Homo sapiens: one gene and its partner. The protein of the gene in region 2 purifies or fractionates together with the protein of the main gene of each other region. This does not show direct contact. Each region holds a gene or a part of one and is shown on either strand. Other genes may lie near its edges.

The links.
Region 1: the proteins of CD19 (region 2) and ANKRD16 purify together in Homo sapiens (affinity purification with mass spectrometry; one large-scale study listed by BioGRID and IntAct). This does not show direct contact.

What each region holds. Positions count from the first base shown.
Region 1 is NC_000010.11:5,879,585-5,883,406, forward strand, and holds part of ANKRD16 (ankyrin repeat domain-containing protein 16), read right to left. Parts: intron 3,584-3,822; coding exon 3,422-3,583; intron 793-3,421; coding exon 714-792; intron 1-713. UniProt on the Homo sapiens protein: Required to prevent the misactivation of serine (Ser) with tRNA(Ala) by promoting the hydrolysis of Ser-mischarged tRNA(Ala), thereby playing a role in translational fidelity.
Region 2 is NC_000016.10:28,937,218-28,939,975, reverse strand, and holds the end of CD19 (B-lymphocyte antigen CD19 isoform 2 precursor), read right to left. Parts: intron 2,706-2,758; coding exon 2,601-2,705; intron 2,522-2,600; coding exon 2,453-2,521; intron 2,353-2,452; coding exon 2,296-2,352; intron 2,208-2,295; coding exon 2,151-2,207; intron 1,304-2,150; coding exon of another isoform or gene 1,301-1,303; coding exon 1,208-1,300; intron 1,105-1,207; coding exon 1,013-1,104; 3' UTR 998-1,012; intron 836-997; 3' UTR 634-835; downstream 1-633. UniProt on the Homo sapiens protein: Functions as a coreceptor for the B-cell antigen receptor complex (BCR) on B-lymphocytes. Decreases the threshold for activation of downstream signaling pathways and for triggering B-cell responses to antigens.

The DNA of each region.
Region 1 (3,822 bases), on a different chromosome or scaffold from region 2:
ATATTCTAAATAAAAAAAATCATAATGAATATAGTTTCTAAATATACTCCAAAATGGATGACCTGTGAAGAATTGATACGATACCTGGCTAGCAGGTGTCATCATGGATTAGAAAGAAACTGCTTTTATGATGCATATATTGTTATGGTTTAAAATAACAACAAAGATTAACAACAGCAGTTGTAATGAGTGGCAGTCATCATCACTGTTATAATAACAATTATATGAAGGCTTTGCAGAGAAAAAGATATTTTAAGGAAAAGTAGCTGAGCTATTAGAAGAATAACATTAAGGCTGGTCACAGTGGCTCATGCCTGTAATCCCAGCACTTTGGGAGGCCAAGGCAGGTAGATTGTTTGAGGTCAGGAGTTCAAGACCAGCCTGGCCAACATAGGGAAACCCCATCTGTACTAAAAATACAAAAATTAGCCAGGCATGGTGGTGCATGCCTGTAATTCCAGCTACTTGGGAGGCTGAGACATGAGAATCACTTGAGCCAGGAGGTGGATGTTGCAGAGAGCTGAGATGGCGTGCCACTGCACTCCAGCCTGGGCAACAGAGGGAAACTCTTGTCTCAACACCACCACCACTAAAAAAAAAAAAAAAAAAAAAAAAAAAAAGGAAGAATATTAAAATCATTGTTTTAAATATAAAAGTGTATTGGTTATACTCAGTTTACTAATTTCCAAGGCATATATAAAATTAAACGGTACCTGATCGATTTTTTTCATCTTTAGAATTGATGTCAGCTCCCAAGGATAAGAGAGTCTGAATTGTACTTGTATGTCCTTCCTGAATTGAAACAAATTTGTTATCACTGTGATGAGGATAAAAGAAAACCTTTTGCAAACCAAAAAGTATCTGAGACAGGTCTCAATCAATTTAGAAGTTTATTTTGCCAAGGTTAAGGACATACCTGAGAGACAGGTCTGTGTCTCTCTCCAAAGATGATTTTGAGGGCTTCAATATTTAAAGGGGAAAAGAGGGCTGGAGTGAAGAGGAGGAGGGTATGGTCACATTACTGAATCCACATTGCAGGATAAAAGGAGCAGGGGGGGGATTAGGCAATGATACATTAAATATCTCTTTCCACTCAGTAAATTGGCACTTTACATAAGATAAGGTGAATATAAAGTAGCTACCTGTGGAAATATTTAACCCTTTATCTGTAGCTATCTGCTTAGGAACAAAAGGAAAGGCAGCTTTCTGCATGACTCAGCTTTCAGCTTAATTTTTTTTCTTTTGGCAGAGTGAGTTGGGGGTCTTACGTTTTTATTTTCCTTTCACACTTTAAACACAGACTCTAACATATATTAGGCACCTTTTCTAAAACAGTCGACTGCTAAAAGTGAATTTTCATCTTTTTTTCCCTAATTTATTCTTTTTTTTTTTTTTGTAGAGACAAGGTCTCACTATGTTGTCCAGACTGATCACAAACTTCTGGGCTCAAGGGATCCTCCTGTCTCAGCCTCCCAAAGTGTTGGGATTACAGGTGTGAGCCACTGCGCCCAGCCAAATTTTCATATCTAAAGTAAGATATTGTATCATTCTCAATTCTAATATAAATCATTAAATAAATATTTTGGTGACATTTAATTATTAGAATATAGATGATCAACTCTGTGAGCCAAATTACTGACCCAATGCAGTTAGTTTCCATCATTGTGAGCAGTACAAATCTTGTGATTTATACAGAACCCAAAACTCTAAAATTTCCCAAGCAAATATACTCTTTGTTGAAATCTTTAGGGGAGAGATAAACTAGAAAAGATCATAACCGCTCATAAATGGGAATTCCTATTACAGCTAGTAGGAATTATTATAATAAATATTTTATAAAATAAAAATATTATTTATATATATATATATATATATATATATATATATATATATATATTTGAGATGTAGTCTCACTCTGTTGCTTGGCTGGGGTGCAGTGGCATGATCTTGGCTCACTGCAACCTCCACCTCCCGGGTTCAAGCGATCCTTCTGCCTCAGCCTCCTGAGTAGCTGGGACTAGTGGCATGTGTCACCACCCCCAGCTAATTTTTTTGTATTTTTTAGTAGAGACAGGGTTTCACCATGTTGGCCAGGATGGTCTTGATTTTTTTTTTTTTTTTTTGACACAGTCTCACTCTGTCGTCCAGGCTGGAGTGCGGTGGTGCGATCTCGGCTCACTGCAAGCTCCTCCTCCCAGGTTCACACCATTCTCCTGCCTCAGTCTCCCTAGTAGCTGGGACTACAGGCACCTGCCACCATGCCCGGCTAATTTTTTGTATTTTTAGTAGAGACGGGGTTTCACCGTGTTAGCCAGGATGGTCTCGATCTCCTGACCTCACGATCCACCTGCCTCAGCCTCCCAAAGTGCTGGGATTACAGGCTTGAGCCACTGCGCCTGGCCGGTCTCGATCTCTTGACCCCGTGATCCGCCCGCCTTGGCCTCCCAAAGTGCTGGGATTACAGGAGTGAGCCACTGCGCCTGGCCTATAAAATAATTTATACACTCTTTGTCTAGCCAGTTAGTCTGCTACTATGTGATGAGACTACAGTTAAGGTTCCAGGTTCACTCTTCCTATGGGAGCACCCTGCGGCCACAGAGCACATCATGTGTATCTACCCAGCTGCTCGAAAGCAGGACATCAGGCAGGAAAATGTAATTGATCAGAAAAACAAGTAGGCCGGGCATGGTGGCTCACGCCTGTAATCCCAGCACTTTGGGAGGCCGAGGTGGGTGGATCACAAGGTCAAAAGTTCGAGACCAACCTGGCCAACGTGGTGAAACCCCGTCTCTACCAAGAATACAAAAATTAGCCAGGCATGGTGGCAGGCACCTGTAATCCAGCCTGGGCAAAAAAGCAAGACTTTATCTCAAAACAAAAACAAAAACAAACAAACAAACCAAAAAAAAAAAACAAAAAATAAGTAAAAGCATAAAGCCAATAGATAATGTTAAGGATAATATGCAAAACGCTCCTAGCATTTAAAACAGCTACTTTTCCAGTGAAAATGTTTGCTTATCTTCAATATACCCCAGAGAGCCTAGTAAATGCAATTCTCTTGCCCTGGCTGAAGAGTTCTTAACTTCTGAAATCCAGTATAAGAACAGAGAGCCAGGAATTTCATACAATGGGTATTTATAGCTTCAAATAACGTTATTCCTGAAAACAAAAACCTGTGTGTGAGGGGGAGGCACTTTATGGAGTAAAAGGCTTTTTTTTAAAGTTTTGTCTAGCAACAAATTCAAGTCAGGTTTCTATTTAAAGAGATAAAGCGCTTCAGAATCCTGACCATTTCAGAAGAATATCATGGGCAATTTCTTCCATAGAGATGGGGTCAAAGAAACCAGGCTGCAGAGCTACTGATCAAAGAAGTAAGGCAAGCCTCAGGGAAGCTCGGACAACGTTATAAGAAGTAACAAACCTTAGCTGCATAATGAAGTGCTGTGAGGTGGGTTGATGTGGCTCTCACATCTACATCGACGCCAAGTTCAGAGACCAAGAATCGGATGGCTTCGTCCTGCCCTGTGACAGCTGCCCTGTGCAGAGCCTGGGCACCCAGGCTGTCTTCTGCTGAAAGGCAAGCCTAGTGGGCAGAGGAGAGAAAGGAGCAAAGGTCAAAGATAAGAAACAGGGCAACTTAGATCTGGGCATCTGCTGGCACTTCAGCAAAACTGAGCTGTTTACGCACAACTCTCTGGGCAGAGGATATGTGGCTTTTGTCTGATTTTCAAAGGATTCTTTTTTTTTGAGACGAAGTCTCACTCTGTTGCTCAGGGTGGAGTGCAGTGGCACAATCTTGGCTCACTACAACCTCCATCTCCT
Region 2 (2,758 bases):
AGCATCTTCTAACTAGACTGCTAATTCCTGGGCTGTTTCTCCACTGGGCACCCAGCATGTAACTGCTGAATTAATGATAATTGGGTAGCTGGATGGTGGGAGGGGGCTGATCGTGACGGATCTGTGGGCAGCGGGCAAAAGAGGGCAGTAGGTGAAGGCTAGGCCATGGAAGGGGAAAGGCCCTTTGTTTTATTTTTATTTTTATTTTTTGTTGAGACGAAGTCTCGCTCTGTCGCCCAGGCTGAAGTGTAATGGCACCATCTCCACTCACTGCAACCTCTGCCTCCCAGGTTCAAGTGATTCTCCAACCTCAGCCTCCCAAGTAGCTGGGACTACAGGCTCGCCACCACACCCAGCTAATTTTTGTATTTTTAGTAGAGACGGGGTTTCACCAGGTTGACCAGGCTGGTCTCGAACTCCTGACCTCAAATGATCCACCTGCTTGGCCTCCTAAAGTGCTGAGATTACAAGTGTGGGCCACCGCACCGGGAAAAGGCCCTTTGTATGCAGAAGGCAGCCCTCCCTCTTCCATGGGATTCAAGACGCCTTTCCTTCCCTTCCTTTCCTTCCCTTCCCTTTCCTTCCTTTCCTTTCCTTCCCTTCCTTCCCACACAATGGCACTACTTCATAGGATTGGAAGAGCTCATTGAGTTTATTTAAGGAATACAAAGGGGACTGGAAGTGTCACTGGCATGTATACACACACACACACACACACACACTTACACACATGCACACATCCTAAGCAACATTGCTCCAGAGGTTGGCATCATCTGCTCGAGGTCTTCAGATTTCAGAGTCAGGTGTGAATCTTGGGGACTTGAGGAGATCCAGGCTATGCAGAAGAAACGGTGATGGGGAGGGGTCCAGCAGTCCTCCCCCTGCCCACCAGGCCCTAGGAACCCTGTTCCCTCTCCCTCCCTGAAAGCCAGCAGCCACTGCCATCCGTGCCTATCTCCCTCCCTCCCCGCTTTCCCTAGGGGCAGTCCCAGCTCACCTGGCCACCTGAGGATCACCTGGTGCTCCAGGTGCCCATGCGGCCCCCTCCTCCCCAGGCTGGGTCTGGCCCATCGGGATTATCCATGTTCTCATAAGAGTCTGCATCTGGATAGGACCAGGGAGGAGGAGAACATGGGTGGCACTGGAAGTAGGCTGGAAGGCAAAGTCAGCCCAGGGGACAGCAGGGGACAGCGGCAGAAGCACCCACCTTCCTCATGATTGGGTCCAGGCTGGCCCCGAATGGAGCGGAGCTGGGGGGCTGCATACAGGATTCCTCTCATATCCTCATAGGACTGGGACCCTGCTTGGGCGGGGGATGGAGAATTGGAGGCTAGGGCATGGGAAGTACAGCCTACGGTAAGGAGGAAGACTGAGGGGCAGAGGAAGGTGAGGAGCATTACCCATGCTGTGCTGGGAAGGGGTGATTTGGTTAGCATTGAGTTTGGGGCCCCAGTTAGCTGTAGGGTCAGGGTTAGATATGGGTTAGATTATGGCTAAGGAAGGGGTCAAGAACAGAACTGGGCTGGGCGTGGTGGCTCATGCCTGTAATCCCAGCACTTTGGGAAGCCAAGGCGGGCAGATCACTAGAGGCCAGGAGTTGGAGACCAGTCTGGCCAACATGGCGAAACCCTGTCTCTACTGAAAATACAAAAATTAGCCAGGTGTGGTGGCAAACGTCTATAATCCCAGCTACTCAGGAGGCTGAGGCATGAGAATCGCTTGAACCTAGGAGGCAGAGGTGGCAACTGCACTCCAGCCTGGGCAACAGAGGGAGACTCCGTCTCAAAAAAAAGAAAAAGAAAAAGAAGAAACTGGAGGGAGTCGGAGTCAGAGTCATGAAGAAGCTGCAGAGTAAGCTGGGGTCCAAGTTGAGGTCTGCACTGGGGCTGAGGTGAGGTGGAGATCAAGTCCAGGCTGATACTGCATTGGGATCGGTGTTGATATTCACAGTTAGGGAGGGGGTAAATATTGGGGGTCAGGATGGGGGATGGGGCTCAGGATGGGGGATGGGGCTCAGTGTTGAGGTGAGAGGAGTCACAGGATTGGGTTCGGGTTTGGGGTCAGGGTCAGGTCAAAGTTGGATCTGGTGTCAGAGCTGAGGCCAGGTCACCCAAGCTGGGCAAGGCAGTCTGATTGAAAGCATCTCTCACCCAGGGAGGTTGCTTCCCGGCTGGGGTCCCAGGCTGACCCATGAGGGCTCAGGAAGTCTGGAAAGGGAAGAGGGAGGTTACTATTCCTCCTGGCCTCCAGGTGTCCTCCGCCTCCCCCCTGGACTGTTGCCATCCTCACACACACCCATTGTCCTGGCGACCGGCTGGGTCAGCTCTTCATCCTCGTTCTCATAAGACTCAGCTGTGGCAGAAGAGAGAGAACTCCAGGGACCCCTTCTAGGAGTGTCACAGCGCTGCAATTACACCTAAGTCTCTGAGGTCCCACAAAGGCCCCAAGTTACCGTTGGAGAAGGAGTCTTCATCCTCAGGACCCAGGGGCTCATCCTCAGGGTTCTCGTAGCCGCTGCCATCTGGTGGAGAAGGAGGGGTGTCCATGGGAGTCCACAGGCCACCGCAGAGGTGGGGGGCCACGGGGGAGGGCAGCCTTACCCTGGGAGAGCTGGTCCTGCCCAAGGTTGGAGTCGTTCTCATAGAACTCGGAGTCCTCCTCACTGTCAGGTTCCTCATAGCCCTCCCCTTCCTCTTCTTCTGGGCCTGGGGGTTTGGGGATGGGGATGGGGAACCGAGTCATGCCCCCTCTCCTCCAG